Regions from separate parts of the Homo sapiens genome. Here regions 1, 3, 4, 5, 6 and 7 are each reported to be linked to region 2. Evidence: microRNA targets listed by miRTarBase, many of them from high-throughput screens and not tested one by one. Region 2 holds a microRNA gene; each other region holds the end of a gene's coding sequence. Distances are from middle to middle.
The links. Region 2 holds the annotated microRNA hsa-miR-7977 (UUCCCAGCCAACGCACCA, at 1,493-1,510, opposite strand). A microRNA usually pairs through its seed, bases 2 to 8, with sites in the 3' UTR of a target mRNA and lowers its output. Matches are read on the target gene's strand: a 7mer-m8 pairs with bases 2 to 8, a 7mer-A1 pairs with bases 2 to 7 and ends in A, and an 8mer does both.

Region 1 (3,093 bases), 120 Mb from region 2:
GGAAAGTAGCTAGAGAGGAGCTTAAGGACCTGTGCCTGGGAGAAGCAGAGGCTTGAGTTTTCCTCTCCTGCCTTTCTCTCACCAGACTACATACCTGAAAACTCAGGGGACATCCCTTGCTGCAGCAGCACCTTCCACCCTGAGGAACATTTCTGCAGAGACAACACCTTGGAAGAGAATCCGGGCCTTTCTTGGACTGATTGGCCAGAACCTTCCTTATTAGAAAAGCCAGAGTCCTCTCGTGGCAGGAGGAGCTACTCCTGGAGGTCCAAGGGTGTCAGAATCACTAACAGCTGCAAAAAATCCAAGTAACACCTTCTGAGTAGCTGCTGTCCCACACAATAGGGTATGAAGCTGCGCTCCTCCATCGGGTTTGGGGAGGGAGCACTCTGGGACTGTGAGACAAGGAAGCAGGGCCAGCAGTGAGACTATGAGCCAAGCAAAGAGAAGTCTCAGTGGAGCATGAGGAGGGAGCAGTCCAGATGCCAACAAGGAAATGCGTTTATGGCTACAAGAGTGCCTCTGCTTTCTCCTCCTCTCCTCCCACCAAGGATTCTTCCACCTTAATCTTGTTTTCATATGCCTCTTCTTACTTCACCCATGTTTGTTGTTATGCAAATAAAGGTTTTCTCTCCATTGGTGTCTCCTTATAAATTCATTCTGAAATTTGTCTGGGTAGTAAAGATTCTACGGGGTAGAGTACGAGAGTAAGAAAACTCACCCTCCTAATCCATAAAATTTAGGGAATTAATGTAGAACTTTTAGCTTAGAATATAGACATGTTTCTTTGGAGGGAAAGAAACCTGTTTATACGGAAATTGGCATTACAGAGGTAGAGAATCTTCATCAATCATTGTGCAAATAATAAGTACACAGGTTCTCATTAGGGAGGTGAGCCAGCATAGCAGTCCACACTGGGTGGAGAATAGGCCCTTGTTGCAAGGCTTGGGGTCCTGGACTCAAACAGGTCAAGGACTACCATGCTTATACATGGGGCATAAGGGACTCCATTCTCTCCTGACTGGTGTGGGCTTCAGCACACCTCCACAGCATGAGTGAGCCCAGTCAAACCCTCACTGCCCGGTGGTTCGAGCATTTCCGTCCAGAGTTTAAATATGAATTTGCATGCCAGGACATTCAAATTAGGCAAGGTGGCCGGGCGCAGTGGCTCATACCTGTAATCCCAGCACTTTGGGAGGCCGAGGCGGGCAGATGACTTAAGGTCAGGAGTTCAAGACCAGCCTTGCCAACATGGTGAAACCCCATCTCTACTAAAAATACAAAAATTAACCGGGCACGGTGGTGGGTGCCTATAATCCCAGATACTTGGGAGGCTGAGGCAGGAGAATCGTTTCAGTCCGGGAGGTGGAGGTTGCAGTTAGCTGAGATCGCGCCACTGCTCTCCAGCCTGGGTAACAGAGCAAAACGCTGTCTCAAAATTAAATTAAAAAAACATAATCTTCCCGTTTTCGTTCACCTCAGATAATTGTATCACAATTTTTGTTAACTTTCAATGTTTATATTATTATGATGCTAGAAATACTGTTTACCACTGAGCCAGGCAGTACACTATGATTACCTTTCCTCTTTTGTACAATGTTTTTTTCTGAAATTAATAATTGCTTCTTTTTTGGTATATACCTATTGCTAATTCTTCTGAAATGTTGCAAATGATCAACAAAATGTCTCAAAATGCAATTTTCCTCATAGACCAGGCATCAGATCACTATCAGCTGGACTTCTTTTCCTGAAGACCTGCCTCCCAGAGCCGCCGCCTCCAGTGCTGGCTGCTCCTAGAGCTCCTGCACAGCTGTCCTCCTAGGGCTTCCCACAATTATGCCCTTTTTCTTCATTTCCTTTCTCTTGGGTTTGACCACCCAATGCTATCCTTGCTTATCCGGGCGTCCAGGGAAATTTTGTCAGAGCTCTGCAAGTAACAGGAACATTTTTTAATTGTGAGCTTTCATATAAAACACAATATTTAACCCATTCTAAAGATTCAACTCTTGCAGTGATAATTCACAACTGAAAGATGCTCCTTAGATTAAGACTTTAGTTCTAAACCTAGAGTTTCTGTAACTTGGGTCACCAGGCATATTTTTAGGGATCTGTGGTAGTATTAATATCTTTTCTTAAGGAGTCTATTTGTATACCCAAGTGTGAGAAACACTATCTTAACTGAGAGTAATGGCCCCTAACAGTGCCCTCTCGACTTTAGCTTCAGTGGGTAGAAAGGGAGCTTGGGAGGGGGCAGTTTTTGTCACCTAGATGTCAGCTGCCCTACCTCTGTGTACAGTTGACTTTGTGGATACTTGCTTAGCTAACACGACAGTGCATGCATACACACACACACACACACACACACACACACACAGCTATTAACTATTTCTTACTCTTTGTATTTTTAGTCTCCACTGATGTTAATAGCCAACCCTATTTTTATAGGCTGGAAAGTCCAACTTTGAAATGTTCTATTCTTCATCTGGGCCTAATCAGTCATTCTCCACTAAATAACTGGCTTCTTTTTTTTTTTTTTTTTTTTTTTTTTTTTGAGACAGAGTCTCTTTGACCTCGTGATCCACCCACCTCAGTCTCCCAAAGTGCTGAGAATCCAGGTGTGAGCCACCACGCCTGGCCTCTTTTTGCTTTTCTTTTTCTTTCTTTCTTTCTTTCTTTTTTTTTTTTTTTTTTTTTTTTGAGAGGGAGTCTCACTCTGTTGCCCAGGCGGGAGTGCAGTGGTGCGATCTCGGCTCACTGCAACCTCCACCTCCCGGGTTCAAGTGATTCTCTCCTTCCTCAGCCTCCTGAGTAGCTGGGATTATAGGCACGCACCACCATGCCAGGCTAATTTTGTATTTTCAGTAGAGACGGGGTTTCACCAAGCTGGTCAGGCTGGTCTCGAACTCCTGACTGCCTCGGCCGCCCAAAGTGCTGGGATTACAAGCGTGAGCCACTGCACCCAGCCCCTTTTTTTTTTTTTTTTTGAGTCAGGGTCTCACTCTGTTCAGTGGCATGATCATGGCTCACTGCCCCGACCTCCCTGGGCTCAGGTAATCCTCCCACCTGAGCCTTCCAAGTAGCTAAGACTATAGG
Region 2 (3,093 bases):
TTACTTCTGGACTCTCAGTTCCATTACCTTATTTATAGGCCTATCTTTATGTCAGTACCACACTATTTTGATTTCTATAGCTCCATAGTAATTTTATTTGTTTGTTTGTTTATTTATTTATTGAGACAGGGTTTCGCTCTGTCCCTGGGCTGGAGTGCAGTGATGTGATCTAGGCTCACTGCAACCTCTGTCTGCCAGGCTCAAGCCATCCTCCCACCTCAGCCTCCTGAGTGGCTGAGACCACAGACATGTGCCACCATACTTGGCTAATTTTTGTATTTTTTGTAGAGATGGGGTTTTGCCATATTGCCCAGGTTGGTCTTGAACTCCTGAGCTTAAGTAATTCACCTGCCTAGGCCTCCCAAATTGCTGGGATTACAGGTGCGAACTGCTATGCCTGGCCTACAGTAATTTTAAAATCAGAAAGCTCTTTTTGTTTAATTAACGAAACTTCTTTTAAGACAACGATAAGCTTTAAACATTTTCTTTTTTATATTATCTCTCTCCTCCAGTTTTTGTTTTGTTTTGTTTTGTTTTCCCAGTACTTTTCTTTCACAAAAGAAGCCTTCTTCAACTGTTAATTCTTGCTTATCTTCTCACGTTTAAAGACGGAGATTTTAAAAACTGTTTGAAGCTCTGAACGCATAGGTAAGACTGGTATACTTTGAGCTTCATTGCAGGATGATGTTTCAACTATAGTCACTGTTTGAGCATAAGTCAGGGAATAATTTATAAAATATTTGGCAACATTAAAATAATATGTCTTCTTTACTGGGAGAAATCTGCCACTGATTTTCTAAGCGAAGAAGCAGAAAGCACATGGGAAAAAATGATGTCACTGCCATCTTGACACGTTTGAAATCACAAATTATAGAAAAGTTGTATTCCTGATCGAAGAATCACTAGTATTACAGGAGTTATTAAGAAATTATTTTAGGCAGCAAGAGAGGGGAAAAGAGTCCTTGGTAAGGCTTTTTCTTTTAATAAAAAAGCAAGCCCCAAAACATTTCTTTTCTAACAGAAAGTGGCCTGAAAAACCAGACCTGCAAGCATTGATATGCAAATGCTGGTGGCTAGAAGCCAGGTCCAACCAATATGGTGGTTCCCGTGACTTTTTCTTTGTTGCCACGTATGCAGAACATCATGGTGACCAGCCAGGTAGCCATATGTGCATATTTAAAGGCTAGGGTGGGAGAGCTGGCTTTTTTGCAGGCTATGTGAATGACACACCTGGTCAAACCAATCCCCTGGCTCCTATGCAAACCAAACACCACGTCGTCCAGCCTCCCAATATAACCGACTGCTTTCTGCTACATGTGGGGTTTTCCATTTGGAGCCCTCCTCCCTCTGTATGAGGGAGCTGTTTTCTTCTTTCTTGCCTATTAAACATTCCACTCCTTAAACCACTCCACGTGTATCCGTGTCGCTAATTTTCTCCGTGCGAGAACAAGGACCTTGGGTGTTTCTCCAGACAACAGACCCATATCATTTTTGGTGCGTTGGCTGGGAAACCAAGGTACAATATCCATTGGGGTTGGTGAGCAGAAGAGCAAACTCAAAACCTGTCCTTTCATTCCGAGGCTCTTGGCTTCCATTTTAAAATCAAATCAAATCAATAACAGCATCTGTCAACCATCTAGATATGCTTAGTGTGGCTGCCATTCTTAAAGACTCGCATGTCAGCCTTGCTGGGGAGAACATGAAGACCCCCCTCCCTCCAATACCCTGGGTCATTGGGAATGTTGGCCGTGCTTCAAACCAGCTTTTCTGTTCATGGGGAAAATTAGCCATTGCATAAGGCGGGGAAAAGTTCTGAAGCAACTGAGAATTTCTGGCCAGGGCATTTCCTAGTGTTATTCAAAAGCTTCTGGACCGGACTCAGCCTCCAGCAGCCTGCCCAGGTGTTGGTAAAAGATCCCCAGTTATCCTGTCGCAAAACTTTTTTTCTGTTTCTATCCACGGTCGCTATGCCTCTTATTCTCTTTGTGTGTCGAATGTGTGGGAATTTTTACAGCCTAGGGAAGTAATCCTGTTAGGCAAGATCAGGAAATGCTGTAATAACCGGGGCTATAGCTCAGGAAAATGCTGTTGCAATCTTCTAGGAACAGAGGTCTCTGAAACCCCGGTTGTGAGATGAGTCCCTACTATGCTGCTGGTGGCACATAGTATTCCTAAGCCAACAGCGCCACCTAGTGGAAATAGACACCCTCTTCATAAGACGCATTGCTTGTCCGCTACAGTCCACCGCAGCTTCCTAATTTTTCCTTTTTGCCCCTTCCTACTGGAAACCAGGCTTTATGCTGCTTCTGTGAACAGGAAAATTCTGCCTTCAACAATTAGGAGTAAATTGTCCTCTGCAGCCAAATTTGAGTCCTGATCCTGTCCCATCAACAGGAAAGTCACGATTAGGCCCCCACATCCCTTTAAGGAAACTATTCTGTCTCCAATAAGACAGTCCTTAATTAGTAAGGGGATTTTAAGTCTGAAAGTTAACCAGAACCATTTTTCTAAGGGTTAAGGCTTTAACACGGGCCATAGTAGCAGGCAATCTAGCACATTCCCTCCATTAAAGGACACTTGCCTTTTATATAATCTTTCCCAAGGTCAATTTTTTTTAAGGGAGGCACACAGGTCACACAAGTCTAGGAAGTCAAAGGGAAATCACAGGCAGAGGACTAGAGCTACTTGAATGAGCATGACTAGCCCCAGTTGCTTGGTTTCTTTGGTGCCATGGCTTGGAGGGTCACACATACAACCATGGGCAGCACATTTAACAGGGTGCTGGGACCCAGGAACCAAGGAAGGAAAACAGTTGGGGGGACGCTCCCACTGTCTTCTTCTCCACTCTGGGTTATACAGAGAGAGGAAGGAGACAAAAGAGACACCTTTTTCTCACTTCTCTTTCTAGATGGGTAACAGATCATGTTCAGCATGTACTCCCCTGGAGTATATTCTAAAGCACTGGGACTGCTTCAACCCTGAGACTTTGTAGAAAGAGCACCTCATATTCTATGGCATAAGGGCATGGCCTTCTTACCATCTTTAAGACAGACAAACCTGGCCTGCTGGGGGGAGCCTTCATTTTAATACTGT
Region 3 (3,089 bases), not on the chromosome of region 2:
AGAGGGCCATAGAGCCCACTTTTGGGGGGAGGGTCCTAGGAGAGGGAGCTCCCAGCATGACCCTGACCCTGACCCTGAGGCGGGGTGCAGAGAGGCCATGGGAGGCTGTTGGCAGCCTAGCCTGCTGTGACTCCTAAGCCATGGCTCTGAGTCACAGCCACCCTAGCCTCTGCTGACCTTACTCTGCCCCTCCAGAGTGGTGGCATAGGACAGAGAAATGTTGCCCCAGGGCCCAGGTCCACACTCTGAGCCCCAGGATGGGAGGATCTCCCCATGCCCATCCTGCCATCCTGCCCCCCCAACAGCCAGGCCTCTGTGCCCAGACCTGTCTCCTGCCCCACCCCCACCCCATCTGCAGGAGCCCCGAGGGTAGGCACTCACCCCACTGCAAGAAGTCGGCCACGTACTTGTCCTGGGCCAGTTCGGAGGCGCCCAGCTCCTGGTGGACGCCCAGGAGAAGGTCGAGCAGGGGCTCCAGCCCCAGGAAGCCCGGGTCCAACACCAGCTGCTGGAGCCGCCTCAGCCGCACCTCGGCTGACATGTTGGACAGGCAGCACCATGGCCCCTCCCCGGGCCGGGGGCTCGGGGTCCTCCTGTCACAGGGCCTGGCAGCCCCTGTCCAGGCCCTGGAGCCCTGGCTGCATGTCTGCCTGTCCCTGGCTGTCCCCTGGGCCTCTCTGGCCACTTCTCTCTGCGGCCGGCCGAGGCCTCCTCCCCTTCTCCCCACCCCTTGGTCCAGCCCCCCTCCCGCCTCCCAGCCTTAACCCCTCACAAGCCAGCCCCCCAAGCTCCCTCCTTCCAGGGCCCTTCAGAACCCTTCAGTGCTAGAGTAGGGGGAATGCATGGAGAATCTCAGCTGTCACACTGTCACCCCAATAAAAAGGTAGAGCACAGAGGAAGCCACAGGTGTGATGAATTTCAAGAAGAACCTGCCCATTGCTGAAACAGGGCCAATTGAGGCTGAGTGACCCAGTAGCAACCACCCCCTTGCTCCCGACAAGCTCCAGAACTGGGGGCTAGGGGGTGAGGGCTGGGGGTTGGGGCTGGGTGGGAGAAAGGGGTTGAGGCCTGGGAAGGGGACGGGAGGCCAGGGCAGCTTCTTGGGTGACTCAGAGATGGATTCCGACTCGGACAGTTAAATTTAGCCCTCAGGCTCTCTGCTTTATACCAGCTTTTTTTTTTTTTTTTTTTTTTTTTCCCAGGAGGTGGGGAAGGGGTGGTGAGGACAGGACCAGGAGGGGGCACCCTCAGAGCCTGAACAGGGGTGACCTGCTGCCCAAAGGCTGGGGGAGGAAAGTGGTGGAGCCAAGCCCTCCCTGGGCAAACGAGACCCCAAAATAGCTCCTTGGCCCCTGGCCGGGGAGCCACATTCCTGCCCAGGCTGGGATTAGAAACAGAAACATTTCGGGGGGTGGAGGGTGGCGCGGGAAGACACACTCCCTGCGGCTCCGAGAGCCAAGAGGAATCTGAGCTCTTCTTTCCAGGGTGGACGGTTCTCCAGAGTGGAAGTCGGGGCCTCCAACCGGCCTGGGGTGCCTGGGCCTTGAGAGGGCCAGGCCTGAGAAACTAGGAGGCAAGGACCGAGGAGTCCCAGCTGGGCAGGGCCTGGGAAACGTGGTCCTGGGCAGTTCTGATAATTTAAAAAACACCGAGGACTTTGATGAGGGGCCCTGGCTGCGGGCAGGATGCTCTTCTCCCCAAGAGGGTCCTGCTCCAGCCGCTGGTGTGGGTCACCAGTTGTGTGACTCGCAGGTCCGTTCCCTCCCTGGGCTCCGGCTTTTCCTGCTATGAAAAGGGGTGGGAGGCGCTGGGCTGGGAGCAGGCCTGCACTCCTCCTCTGGGGAAAGCGGACTGCCTAGAACCACAGAGTACACACACAGGTCCTCTACATCATCTCCTCCGAAGGGGACAGACCCGCTGAGAAAACAGGGAACTTTAGTATAAATAAGAGGTCCTGCGGGACAGGGAGGAACCTGAGGGGCTTCCATAATTTAACACTCTTCAAAAGCACAGACAATAGCAAGGGCAGCTGGGGTGGGGGCCGGGCGAGGGCTGGACCACCCCCGGCCCTGCCCACTCAACTGAGGGGCACACTGCAGACCTGGGGCTCTTGTGGCAGGGGCGGGGAGTCTCTCCCCAGGAGTGACCAGTCACATGCTGGGGACAGGGATGAGGGTAACACTGATGTTTCAGAGGAAGAGGTCATTGTACTTGGCAGTGGGTGGGGGACAAGGCTGAGGCCACAAGGGCTATTACATCGCCCGTGTCCGGGCCAGTCTGGGGGGCCCCCAAATTTTGTGCAGGTGGGGGGACTGGAGCAGTCCATCCATCATGGTTAGTCTTGTTAATACGTTGATCTGTGAGGTCAGCAGGGAGGGTTATGGCTAGGAGGCTGGGGGCATGGGGTTGGGGGGGCCCGATATCCATGGCTTCACACCACTGTGCCACTCGGGGAGTTGCCTGGTTGGGAGGAGATGCCCTGGGGAAGATGAGAGGGAGAGATGGGAGGGGTTAGAGACCACCTGGGCTTCAGCCAGTGTCAAGGGGAGGGAGCCAGCCCAGAGTCCCCAAAGCTGCTGCCACCCTGGCCTTGCCCTTGGGTCCGCCCTAGACCCCCCAGAGGCCACTGCTCTAGGCTGGGAACTTGCATCTTAGCTAGCTTCCTGTCCTGGCAGTCAGCACTTTCACGCAATAATCAAAGTCCTTGGCGGATCCTGAGTGAGACCATGGGGTAAGGGTAAGGGTGGGAGGGGAGGGGGAAACTGGAGCTCCCTTCTAACTTGGGAGGGACCCTGAGGTGCTGGGGAAAGAACTCAGGGACAGTCCTACCTCTACCACTGACTTGCTGGGTGACCTGGGCCAACTTCCTTCCCCTGTCTGGGCCTCGGTCTCCTCGTCTGTGAACTACGGAGACAGAGGGGTCTCTTTTAGGACTCAACCAGACTCCCCAAATCCCACCACTCTTGCCTCTGAGTCACTCAGACTGTGCTCTCAAGTTCTAGGGACTCAGGACTCTACGATTCCAAAACTGAGGATCTGAGGAACCAAGCCACGGCCTCCAGGACCCTGGGCAACTGAGTCCAAGCCCT
Region 4 (3,000 bases), not on the chromosome of region 2:
CCTGCTGCTGCACCAGCGCCTGCACACCGGCAATGGCCAGGGCTGGCCCGCCTGCCCCTACTGCGGCAAGGCCTTCCGCCGGCCCTCGGACCTCTTCCGGCACCAGCGCATCCACACCGGTGAGCGGCCCTACCAGTGCCCCCAGTGTGGCCGGACCTTCAACCGCAACCACCACCTGGCCGTGCACATGCAGACCCACGCCCGAGGCCAGGTGGGCCCACACTTCCCTGCCGCCCCCGCCCGCCACGGGAGCCTGCCCCTGCCCTGGCCCAGCCGGAAGGAGGAGGGCTGACCTGGCAGGAGCCCACAGAGGACCCCTGGCGGGGTCTCTCCCCTGTGCCTGACGCAGGTTCTTCCTTTTCCTGGGATGGAGAGAGGTTTGTTGTTTTTACCCATTCAAATGGGAAGCTAGCTGCCCTTCTGGTGACATTGTGTGTGACCGGGTGCTTTCTGTTTCCTGTTTGCACTCTTCGCTGCCTTTTCTGCATTCCTGACTTCTAAAAGATGCCTTAAGGCTTAAGGGATGCCATATTTTTGATAAGGCCTCTGGTAGGTACCACAGCCAAGAGGACCAGAGATCATGGCCCTTCCAGTATGGGGGCGATAGAGACATCGGGGACCTGGGATTTTTGTTTTGTGCAGAGATCTCCTGCCTGCTGTCACCATGAGAAACAGTGGAGTGGAGTGGATGGATGGCCTGACTTGAAGAAAGGGCCCTGGAAAGTTTTCTACTTTGCTATTTTGAAATTTTTTTCCCTTCTTATAGAGACTTTGAAATACTTTTGTAAATGTGTGTAGTTGTTAATGGAACTTTGCCTTTTGCAAAGTCGGAAAGAGTCGGCTTTTCCATGTGAGGCTCGCAGAGCTGAAAGGGGAGCTACGTCCACCAGCCTGTGGGTCTTTTGGTTTTTTTTTTGTTGTTGTTGTTGTTTTTTTAAGATGGAGTTTCACTCTTGTTGCCCAGGCTGGAGTGCAATGGTACAATCTCCGCTCACTGCAACCTCCGCCTCTCGGGTTCAGGTGATTCTCCTGCCTCAGCCTCCTGAGTAGCTGGGATTACAGGCGCCCACCACCACTCCCGGCTAATTTTTGTATTTTTAGTAGAGACAGGGTTTCATCATGTTGTCCAGACTGGTCTCGAACTCCTGATGTTAGGTGACCCGCACACCTCGGCCTCCTGAAGTGCTGGGATTACAGGCGTGAGCCACCACTCTTGGCCCAGCCTGTGGGTTTTGATGGGGATGTCTTGGCTGCTGTCTTGGAGGCACAGTGTCTCCCCATGTGTGTGTTTCTTGGCCCAGAGTGACTCCCAGTATTCCTAGTCCTTCCCCACAGGATAGTCACATCCATTATTTACTTTTGTTGTCAGCTGGGAGGGGAAACTGAAGCCTGGACACGTCTCCCCAAGGGCTCAGTGTTCATGGGTGTGTAAGATCCATTGACTGGACCCCAGAAAGCACCCTGAGGGGCAGTGCAGAGAGAGCCCAGGAAGCCCCTCCACTAGAGGAGGCCCTTGGTCTGGCTGAGGACCACGTCCACCCTGGGCCTCCAGGCCTGCTTTTCACATTAAAGGCGGGGCAGTCTCCTCTCAAAGGAGTTCTCCCTTGAGCACTTTGGGCTCTGGGGCAGAGTTGGGCTAGGAGATCTGGGTGAATCCTTTAGTCACAGCTAGTCTCATGTTCCTCTTCTGTCAAAGGGGTCATGGCCCCAGTGTGTCCTACCTCAGAGTTGTCAGGGTCAAAGTAACAGGCACTGGGACAAATATGAAGCCTAGCTTTGTGCTTCCTTTCAAATTCAGGGCCTCCTTTCTACTCCATTCCAGCCTTTTTTTCCTGTCAGAATCCCTCAGGAAGGACCTTTATCTTCTGGAGTGAGTGGCAGTTCCACTGGGTTCAGTGAAAGAGTCGCCCATGGGGCTCTGTTCCCCAGGAGTCCTTTGTATTTTGGTGAACAAATTCTTACCAAAGCATGAGATTCGGACTGTAGAAGTTCAGACTGCCTCAGTTCAGACTGCCTCATGGGGCAGTCTGGAGGTCAGCTGGCTTCTGGTGTCTCTCATCACACCACTGCGGACGCTGTCTGTAGAGCAGCCTTGGTGTGGGTGACTCTGAAGCTGGAGTGATGGGACCCCAGCTATCCTTGTTTTTTACCGCCTTGTCTGGCACTGTGACCACGCTTCAGGGCTGCTTCTGGGGGTCTTGGTCCCTGGATGTGCCATTTCCTTGCCCTTCTGACCCTCACACTTCTTCCAAAGTCTTGAGCAGAGTTGGGGGCCAATGGTAGCATTGCTGTCATCTCTGGGAGGAGAGTGAGTATACAAGTCAGTGACAGTTCAGCCAGGCTCCCTTGGGTTTGGGAAGAGGCACTGCCCTTCTGTGCTGTGGATCCTGCTTGTCTGCTCTGGAGTCCCCCCACCCTTGCCAGGAGCTTCACAAACCAGAGACGGGCTGTCAGCAAGAGCTCAGACAGGATGTGGTGCAAGTGCAGGTGCACGAGTTTAACCCTCAGCTGCAGGAGCTAGTCTCAGGTGTTCTGGGGATGCCTCAGGCTAAGAATTTTGCCGACTTTCTGGGCTTGGTTGGCTAATGCCAAATGCCCCTGCTTAAATATCACAAGGTGCTGATTCTCCTTTTTTCTTTTTTTCATACCAATGTGCTCAAACTTTGAGCTAGGTCTTGTGAGTTTGCCTAGCACTCAGACCTGTTTAAGTAACGTTCTTTACATTGAAACAAGTCAACCGAAGCTTTGTGGTGCAGGAGCTGAGGGTGCCCCAGACTCAGTGGGAGCCCTGGTTGGGCCCCAAACTCTCCCAGCAGGGTCCTCGGTTTCCTCATTTGTGAAATAAATGAGTGGGCCACGACGTTAATAAGCCCAAGAGAACTGTGAAGGTGGTAGTCCCTTGCCCTAATTGGTGCTCAATAAAGTTGTTGGCATAAACGAGTGCGTGCGCTTGATCTGGTTTCTGCTCTCTGGGAGGTGAGTGGCCGTGCGGGGCGGTGG
Region 5 (3,087 bases), not on the chromosome of region 2:
GTTGCAGCAATCCTCATCTGCTTCCGGAAGCCCTGGTTATACTTTCATTCACTTTGTGGATTTTACATTCCCTTTCCTCTGCCTCAAATGCCCTTTCCACCCCATCATCTACTGTCCTGGAGACTCTTGCTTCAATGCTTACTTCTAGCACCATCTCATCTCTCCTGAGAAGTGACCTTCAATTCACCCTCACCCATATCCTGTTTGCCATGGAGGCACCTGTGCATACCTCCCCAACTAGATTGATCCCTGAGGCCGGCAAGGCCTGTGATCATCCTGGAAACCCTGTGCTTACACAATACATGTATCAAGGCTGGGCACGGTGGCTCAACGCTGTAATCCCAGCACTTTGTCAGGCTGAGGCGGATGGGATCACCTGAGGTCAGGAGTTCAAGACCAGGCTGTCCAACATGGTGAAACTCAGTCTCTACTAAAAATACAAAAAATAATAATAAAATTAAAAAAAATTAGCTGGACATGGTGGCAGGCAGCTGTAATCCCAGCTACTTGGGAGCCAGGAGAATTGCTTGAACCCAGGAGGCAGAGGTTGCAGTGAGCTGAGATCACACCATTGTGCTCCAGCCTGGGCAACAGAGCGAGACTCCATCTCAAAACAAACAAACAAACAAATATGTATCAGCTATGATTGAAATATTCCCCTTTTGGCCAGTCGCAGTGGCTCACGCCTGTAATCCCAGCACTTTGGGAGGCTGAGGTGGGCAAATCACCTGAGATCAAGCGTTCGAGACCAGCCTGGCCAACATGGTGAAATCTCGTCTCTACTAAAAATACAAAAAAAAATTAGCTGGGCGTGGTGGTACACTCCTGTAGCCCCAGCTACTCGAGGAGGCTGAGGCAGAATTGCTTGAACCCAGGAGGCGGAGGCTGCAGTGAGCCAAGATTGTGCCACTGCACTCCAACCTGGGCAACAGAGGGAGATTCGATCTCAAAAAAAAAGTCCCCTATTCTCTTTCTAGGGGCCAGAAAACGGAAATATACTGCTCAATGCTTCCTTAAGTCAAAATCTAAATTATCGTGGTATATTAATGAATAGCAACAAAACTCACTCTCCATCCCAAATGCATGTGGGAGAAGTCCTACAACTTAATGTGTCAGATTTTAGGAACTTACACCTATTTAATCTAGCCTAGGATGTAAGAAAAGTGGCACAGAATTGTAAAATTTTATTTTCCACACATCAATATTCTTATTAACACAGCTTGATTGAAAGAATTCTGACCAGTGGCTGGTCATTACATGCAGTGGCTCATGCCTGTAATCCAAGCACTTTGAGAGGCCCAGGCGGGCGGATCACCTGAGGTCCGGAGTTCAAGACTAGCCTGACAAACATGGAGAAACCCCATCCCTACTAAAAATACAAAATTAGCTGGGCGTGGTGGCACATGCCTGTAATCCTAGCTACTCAGGAGGCTGAAGCAGAATCACTTGAACCTGGGAGGCGGAGGTCGTGGTGGGCTGAGATCATGCCATTGCACTCCAGCCTGGGCAACAAGAGTGAAACTCCAGCTCAAAAAAAAAAAAGACTTTCTTCCTTCAAAATAAAGGTTCTAAGATAAATTCAAAATTCCTTTGAATGAAATAAAGGAAACCGGCTGGGCACAGTGGCTCAGGCCTGTAATCCCAGCACTGTTAGGCCAAGATGGGCAGATTGCTCCCAGGAGTCCGAGACCAACCTGGGCAACACAGGGAGACCCTGTCTCTACAAAATTTACAAAAAATCAGCCAAGTGTAGTGGTACGCTCCTGTGTTCCCAGCTACTCAGAAGGCTGGGGTGGAAAGATGCTAGAGCCAGGGAGGTCAAGGCTGCAGTGAGCCAAGATCATACCACTGCACTCCAGCCCCCACAACAAAGCAAAACCCTGTCTCAAAAGACAAAAATAAAACCTTCTAAAACAGTGAGCTTGCTAAGCACAGTGGCTCACGCCTGTAATCCCAGCACTCTGAGAGGCCAAGGCAGGCAGATCACGAGGTCAGGAGATCAAGACCATCCTGGCTAACACGGTGAAACCCCGTCTCTACTAAAAATACCAAAAAAAAAAAAAAAAAAATTAGCTGGGCATGGTGGCAGGCGCCTGTAGTCCCAGCTACTCGGGAGGCTGAGGCAGGAGAACGGCGTGAACCCGGGAGGCGGAGCTTGCAGTGAGCCAAGATTGCACCACTGCACTCCAGCCTGGGTGACAGAGTGAGATTCCATCTCAAAACAAAAAACTGTGAGCTTACAAAATGCAACAGACTGCTAGGCACACTTAATGTAACGTGGAAGTATGTTCACTGAAATGATGAAAATTTGAAACACGACCATAAACCTTTGTGAAAAACCATAGTATGCCCTTTACTTCATTTGCTTTTAGCTATTTCATAAACACCACAGAGAAACTGGACACAGTTTGTGATGAAACTTAGAAAAATTTCTTTTTCCATAACATAAACATGTCAGTTTTTCCCTTTAGATCCTTCTTCCACTCCCGCTTCACTGTGCTGAAGAGATATTGAGTTCTTCCAGATTTTTGCTTAGCTGGGTGGTTTCCGAACTCAACGGACTCTCCAGGTAGGTAGTTCCAGCACAGGGCTTTCCTGTCACTGGATCTATGACTTTTCCAACTTTGAAAACGATCTCAGCCAGTTCATGTTTCACATGCTTTGCTCGTGGAACAGGTAAAGCTCTGAGAAGCACAATATCCCCAACTGTGCACTGCTGAAGGGCATCGTGAGCAAAGTAGGTTTTCCGCTTATTAAAATACTGTTGAGAGAGGGAGAGAAGCAAATCAGTAGTTCCCATCTGTGACCTGGTAATGTAATATGTAATATGAAAAAGTAACGTATGGAAAACAAGCCAGGACTTAGGAAAAGATAAGATACTAAGGAGGCTTCTAGTACAAAAATTAGAGCCTGAGTGATATAGTGAGACAATCCAGTGAGATGGATTCTCGCTCTGTTGCCCAGGCTGGAGTGCAATGGCACGATCTCAGCTCACTGCAACCTCCGCCTCCCAGATTCATGAGATTCTCCTGCCTCAGCCTCCCAAGTAGCTGGAATTACAGGTGCCTGCCACCATGCCCGGCTAAT
Region 6 (3,093 bases), not on the chromosome of region 2:
CTCGGCCGTTCAGATGAGAGGCTGGGAAAAACGTGTCTATCTGTGAGTTTTTAATGCAGCCACAAGGTCCTGAATTCACACGAATCTGTTTGTACTCCTTTGCTTGTGCCCACACTCTAAGGCACTCTCCTGTGTCTTGCAGAAATGGGAACAGATCGAGGGCAACTCCAAGCTGAGGCACGTGGGCAGCAACCTGTGCCTGGACAGTCGCACGGCCAAGAGCGGGGGCCTAAGCGTGGAGGTGTGTGGCCCGGCCCTTTCGCAGCAGTGGAAGTTCACGCTCAACCTGCAGCAGTAGGAGGGTCCGGGAGGCCCTGCCGTCCTGTCTCCTGCACCATTGGGTGGAGTCTGGTGATCACATTATTGATTATGTTTCTTAAACTTTCCGCGAAACTAATATACCTCAGTATTCCATCATGGTCTGAAAGTCAAACTTCGGCAAGGCACGGACGACTGTGCAGACACAGCAGCGGCAAGAAGCGAGAACTGCCCTCCCCCTCCTCTCGGTGCAGCCCAGCCGGGCCCCCTTCCCCAGGCCGGAGCGCCCCTCTTCCTTCCAGCTTTCACTTCTGCCGGCTCCGCAACTGAGTGACACCCAGCGACAACCGACTGGGGAGTGGTAGAAGCAACTGAACGGATGCGTGCGAGCTGAGGACAGGGCGGGAGGAGGGGGCACACATGCCCCAGGGGAGCGAGGAGAACTCTTGAAATCTCCATTTTCAATCCCTTCGAAATCACGTATGGTTTCCACAAAGCCGAGTCGTGTCACGTGGCAGGTTTACGTCAATAGTCCCTCTCTCTGCTCCTCCATTCGCAAGTGTCTTCCTGGGCCAGACTCCCCTCCACCTCATGTACTTGCTATATTGAGGATGAAGTTTTCTATGGTGGGACACTAAATATAAAGCTATATAGAGAAAGAATGTACGGTCAGTTCCCTATGGTTTCTGTAGATCATCGTCATCTTGTATATTCCCCACAAAGCCGTTCGCAGCTTCCGGGAGAAGGGGCCAGAGCCCGGTGGGGCCAGTTTCTCACAGAGGGAGGAGGTGGCCTTTGTCCCCTGGAGCCCGATCAGCCAGTTGGTGCTACTGCTGTGGCCAGCTGGGGGGCTTCCTCCAGACCACCGGCCTCGGCCCCGGCATCCCTGTTGGGCGTCAGCCTGAGAGTCCCTACTGTGCGTCAGAATCCACCTTGCGTGCTGTGCGTATCTGTGAACCTGGAGCGGTTACTTATTTTGACAGATATCACTTTGGGTCTTTTTACATTAAATTTCTTTTCTCTAAGGAATATAAGACATACCCCATAGCTCTGTGTGAGCCAGCAATACCGCTGCCCCCTGGCGACAGGGCAGACCAATGATGCCAGGCAGCTGTCACACGCTAGTATTGGCTTCATTGTGATCTGAGCCCTGCACGCTGGGCCTTCAGAATTAATGGCCAGCAGTGTCAGGGATGAGCCCGTCAGCCAGGGCACAGGCCTGGCTCACAGTCCTGCACACCTGCTGGCCTGGGGAGCTCCAGCCAGGCAGCGAGTCCTGCCCCGCCCGCAGCTCCCTCCCACACCCCGCCTGGCCAAGATGACTGCTTCAGGGGGCTTTGGGGAAAGAATTAGGAAGGGTCAGAACCAAACAATACCTGCTCATTTACACTGAGGATTCAGGGCGGGAGACAGGAGCCTTGGGGTCCTGTTAAACCACAGACAGTTATGAACTGAAAGTCATAACGGGGAGAGGTGCCTGGCTTCTACCTGGGTGCTCAGGAATGTTCCTCGTCACCCCTGCCACTCTGTGGTCGGTGCCCTGCTTCCTCCTCCACTCCTGGCCGCCTTCTCCAGCGCCGCACACACAGATGCTCAGTCTCAGAGAGGCTGGCACGGCCTGGCAGTCTGAGAAAAGCGTCAGTTAGGCACACCTGCAGGCCCCTCGGTGGGACAGCGGCGGCCTTGGAGTTAGGAGCCACCCTGGGAGGTTGTGCCGGTGCCATGCTCCTCCCTGTGTCTTGTATGAAAGGGGCCACTGTGTGTCTTCCTCCCCGGCGGGAGCCCCACATGTGTGCACTGTAGGACAGCGGCCCCGAGGTGGAAGCCTGGCTGGAGGGCTGCCCTATAGGTCTTCTCTTCCCGCCTCCCCTGCCATGCAACCAGATGTGTTGTGAGTGGGCAGCGTGCCCCCACGCTGGAGTAACTCCGCACGCTTCTGTCTTTCACGGTGGGCGCTCGGGGGGAGCCTGAGGAAAACCCCCTTAGGTACCTGTGCGAGGCTGTGGAGTGCAGGCCAGAGCAGGGTGTGCGTAGCCCCCAGCACCCAGGTTCTTCTGTCAGACCCTGTGACCTGCGAGCTGCTACTACTGTAAGGAGGGAAATGGATGAATCTGGCTCGTTTTAAAATCACGTTTTCTGACGAATCCTTTGCCCCTTCACCTTTACCCCGCCCGCACCCCTAGGCCCTCTCAGCCTTCCTATCATCCCACGTGTCTACCCAGACCCTTGTGCGGCCCATGCCCTGGGGGCGGCGTCCTGTCCCTGAGCTGGGAGGCGGCTTTGGATGGTCCGGGCGTCAAGAGCAGGGGTGGGCCGGGGAGGGGTCCTTTGCGGTGAGCTATGTTTACATGACACAGTGTGCCAAAGTGACTTACTGCGGTTGCGTTAGTTTTTAATCATCAGGACTATCTCACCCTCCCACTCCTGTTTTTAAAACTCAGAATTCTTTCCTAAGAGCCCTTCGAGCAAAGCGTGCCGAAGTTAGTTGTCTTCTCTGTGCTGGTCCTTTCTTATGTCCTCATAAAAGCTCAGATGATGGTATCTGTGAGTATGTTTTGCAAATTCAAAATATAGTTTGGTAATTTTTTTTTCCAGTTGATTTTTAAAAAGAACTGCTGTACAGAGCTTGTACTTTGTCCATTTTATAGATGGAAACCATCCTTGAAAATTGTTTAACTTAAATAAAGAGAAGATACTTTCTAGATACCGCTCTTTGCTGGCCAGAGTCTGTCCTGGTGTGTGAGGGCTGGGTGGGGTGGGTGTGGGGACTGGGATTGGGGTCAGCCTTCTGCAGCTCCTGCTCAGTGGCTGTTTCTTATCACCTTTTGCAGATGC
Region 7 (3,093 bases), not on the chromosome of region 2:
CAGAATCACATCTATCAGCAAAATCACATGGTCCTGTCTCGGGCCCGCAATGGGATGCCACTTCTGAAGGAGGTTCCCCGCTCTTACGAACTCCTCAAGCCCCCGCCCATCTGCCCAAGAGACTCCGTCAAAGTGATCAACAAGGAAGGGGAGGTGATGGATGTGTATCGGTGTGACCACTGCCGCGTCCTCTTCCTGGACTATGTGATGTTCACGATTCACATGGGCTGCCACGGCTTCCGTGACCCTTTCGAGTGTAACATGTGTGGATATCGAAGCCATGATCGGTATGAGTTCTCGTCTCACATAGCCAGAGGAGAACACAGAGCCCTGCTGAAGTGAATATCTGGTCTCAGGGATTGCTCCTATGTATTCAGCATCGTTTCTAAAAACCAATGACCTCGCCTAACAGATTGCTCTCAAAACATACTCAGTTCCAAACTTCTTTTCATACCATTTTTAGCTGTGTTCACAGGGGTAGCCAGGGAAACACTGTCTTCCTTCAGAAATTATTCGCAGGTCTAGCATATTATTACTTTTGTGAAACCTTTGTTTTCCCATCAGGGACTTGAATTTTATGGAATTTAAAAGCCAAAAAGGTATTTGGTCATTATCTTCTACAGCAGTGGAATGAGTGGTCCCGGAGATGTGCTATATGAAACATTCTTTCTGAGATATATCAACCACACGTGGAAAAGCCTTTCAGTCATACATGCAAATCCACAAAGAGGAAGAGCTGACCAGCTGACCTTGCTGGGAAGCCTCACCCTTCTGCCCTTCACAGGCTGAAGGGTTAAGATCTAATCTCCCTAATCTAAATGACAGTCTAAGAGTAAGTAAAAGAACAGCCATAAAATAAGTATCTGTTACGAGTAACTGAAGACCCCATTCTCCAAGCATCAGATCCATTTCCTATCACAACATTTTTAAAAAATGTCATCTGATGGCACTTCTGCTTCTGTCCTTTACCTTCCCATCTCCAGTGAAAAGCTGAGCTGCTTTGGGCTAAACCAGTTGTCTATAGAAGAAAATCTATGCCAGAAGAACTCATGGTTTTAAATATAGACCATCATCGAAACTCCAGAAATTTATCCACTGTGGATGATGACATCGCTTTCCTTTGGTCAAGGTTGGCAGAGCAAGGGTATAAAGGGGGAAATTGTTTGGCAGCACCAACAGAAAACAAACAAACAAAAAACAGCTACCTAAAACTTCTTGAAAGAGTTCATGGAGAATTGGTGATACAGACCCAAAGCAAATTTGCCAATGATATTTTCCACAAAAAAAGTCCAAAAAGTATGGCTCAGCCTCCCCCTCCCCACAGGAGAGGAATTGGAGATAGATGGCATGTGTGTTTAGATCGGAGTTGAGCTCCGGAATGGGGTGAGGAGGGACACCTCTATTGAGAGGTTCTCCTTGATCAGGCAGGCTTCGGCCCTTTTTTTCCCATTTAAATGGAACTGCTGTATTCCATGAAAATTCCTGAAAGTCTGATCACGGTTCTGCAGATGTATAAGTCATCCTTGTCACTCATAATATGTACATACTATCAGGAGGAGTGCTGTTATCATGGTAAAATTAGCACTGGAATAGGAGGTCACAAAATGCTGGCTAATTAGCTATGTGACTTTGAGAAATCGTTTAACTTTTTTTTTTTTTTTTTTTTTGAGACAGGATCTCACTCTGTTGCCCAGGCTGGAGTGCAGTGGTGCAATCATGGCTCAGTGCAGCCTCGACCTCCCCAGGCTCAGGTGATCCTCCCACCTCAGCCTCTTGAGTACTGGGACAACAAGTGCACACCACCATGTCTGGCTACATTTTGTTCTTTTTGTAGAGATAGGGGTCTCACTATGTTGCCCATGCTGGTCTTGAACTCCTGGGCTCAAGCAATCAGCCCGCCTCAGCCTCCTAAAGTGCTGGGATTACAGGTGTGAGCCACCACACCCAGCCTTATTTAACTCTTAAAACTCAGTTTCCGGCCAGGCTCGGTGGCTCACACCTGTAATCCCAACACTTTGGGAAGCCGAGGCAGGCGCATCATTTGAGGTCAGGAGTTCGAGACCAGCCTGACCCACATGGTGAAACCCTGTCTCTACTAAAAATACAAAAATTAGCTGGGCAGTAGTGGCACATGCCTGTAATCCCAGCTACTCCGGAGGCTGAGGCAGAAAAATCGCTTAAGCCTGGGAGGTTGAGGTTGCGGTGAGTGGAGATCACACTACTGCACTCCAGTCTGGGCGACAGAGTGAGACCCTGTCTCAAACAAAACAAAACAAAAACAAACAAACAAAAACAAAAAAAACTCAGTTTCCTCATCCATAAAATAGGAATTAGATTTCAATGTTCTCTTAGGTCCCTTCTAGCTTTAATTCATATGTGATTATGCAGTAACCACAAGGTATTTTTTAAACCTCCTAATGTATGGATATTAAGCAGAAGAGTATTTATATGAATACATGTTTCACATTCCTTTGGTATGAAAATGGTGTGTTAAGTTTTTCCTTTAACCACTGAGTTGTGAATGTGAAGAAGGTGGTGGAGAGGAACAAAAAACAGAAAGGTATTTTGATCTTGCCACAAAGCATACACACAAATTGGCACATGCAGCTGTTTGCCAAAGCCTTCTTTTTTTTTTTACTTTTTAAGAAATTATGTTAGGGAAAATAAATTCTGCTTCCAGGGACAACTTCATGGAGCCTATTTACAAATTAAGAGTCAGCTTAATTTGTAACATTTCTACCAGAGCCAAGAATCCCAAATTCCTGGTAGATTAGTGTTTTATTTCTAAGGGGCTTATGCATTCGGCTCCAACTCAACTCGTCTATGTGCTGCCAGTAATTAAAATGTTCCACCTCAGACTGCACAAATGGCTTATCCTTCTTTGTGGCATGGCGTCTGTCTCAGGAAAAAAGGTTTTATGAAATTCCATGGCAACAGTCCCAACATGTTTGAGACTTCAGCTAAAGGAATGGATGTATTTTGGTGTGTAGTCTTCAGTATATCACTGTATTTCCGTAATACTAGACTCCAAGCTATGCCAGATTGCTTATTCCCTTTGTGAAAGAGGAGTTGCTCATTACGTTCTTGAAATAT

Region 1: miRTarBase lists PHF7 as a target of hsa-miR-7977. The part of its 3' UTR that is shown has no 7-base or 8-base seed match.
Region 3: miRTarBase lists DMWD as a target of hsa-miR-7977. Seed matches in the 3' UTR shown: 7mer-m8 at 1,589-1,595 and 7mer-A1 at 1,196-1,202.
Region 4: miRTarBase lists ZNF783 as a target of hsa-miR-7977. Seed matches in the 3' UTR shown: 7mer-m8 at 1,050-1,056, 7mer-m8 at 1,185-1,191 and 7mer-m8 at 1,369-1,375.
Region 5: the mRNA of MRPS17 is a reported target of hsa-miR-7977. Seed matches in the 3' UTR shown: 7mer-m8 at 2,100-2,106, 7mer-m8 at 1,952-1,958, 8mer at 1,769-1,776 and 7mer-m8 at 1,640-1,646.
Region 6: the mRNA of GALNT2 is a reported target of hsa-miR-7977. Seed matches in the 3' UTR shown: 7mer-m8 at 2,525-2,531.
Region 7: miRTarBase lists IKZF3 as a target of hsa-miR-7977. Seed matches in the 3' UTR shown: 8mer at 753-760 and 7mer-m8 at 1,916-1,922.

Annotation. Positions count from the first base shown.
Region 1 is chr3:52,423,006-52,426,098 of GRCh38, forward strand. It overlaps PHF7 (PHD finger protein 7), which reads left to right. Exons shown (of 11, transcript NM_016483.7): 11 at 86-636. The coding sequence ends at 312. Among named protein-coding and RNA genes, the nearest start is that of PHF7, 14 kb to the left of the region's middle.
Region 2 is chr3:176,513,520-176,516,612 of GRCh38, reverse strand. It overlaps MIR7977 (microRNA 7977), which reads right to left and starts at 1,510; the gene lies at 1,462-1,510.
Region 3 is chr19:45,781,812-45,784,900 of GRCh38, forward strand. It overlaps DMWD (DM1 locus, WD repeat containing), which reads right to left. Exons shown (of 5, transcript NM_004943.2): 4 at 2,830-2,904; 5 at 1,136-2,479. The coding sequence ends at 2,432. DMPK (DM1 protein kinase) reads right to left here and starts at 679. Exons shown (of 15, transcript NM_004409.5): 1 at 382-679. The coding sequence starts at 541.
Region 4 is chr7:149,282,052-149,285,051 of GRCh38, forward strand. It overlaps ZNF783 (zinc finger protein 783), which reads left to right. Exons shown (of 6, transcript NM_001195220.2): 6 at 1-2,937. The coding sequence ends at 292. Among named protein-coding and RNA genes, the nearest start is that of ZNF783, 21 kb to the left of the region's middle. RefSeq lists a silencer at 2,932-3,000.
Region 5 is chr7:55,954,583-55,957,669 of GRCh38, reverse strand. MRPS17 (mitochondrial ribosomal protein S17) reads right to left here. Exons shown (of 3, transcript NM_015969.3): 3 at 1,170-2,761. The coding sequence ends at 2,492. Among named protein-coding and RNA genes, the nearest start is that of MRPS17, 4.2 kb to the right of the region's middle.
Region 6 is chr1:230,279,161-230,282,253 of GRCh38, forward strand. It overlaps GALNT2 (polypeptide N-acetylgalactosaminyltransferase 2), which reads left to right. Exons shown (of 16, transcript NM_004481.5): 16 at 143-2,962. The coding sequence ends at 298. Among named protein-coding and RNA genes, the nearest start is that of PGBD5, 150 kb to the right of the region's middle.
Region 7 is chr17:39,763,039-39,766,131 of GRCh38, reverse strand. It overlaps IKZF3 (IKAROS family zinc finger 3), which reads left to right. Exons shown (of 8, transcript NM_012481.5): 8 at 1-3,093. The coding sequence ends at 342. Among named protein-coding and RNA genes, the nearest start is that of GRB7, 27 kb to the right of the region's middle.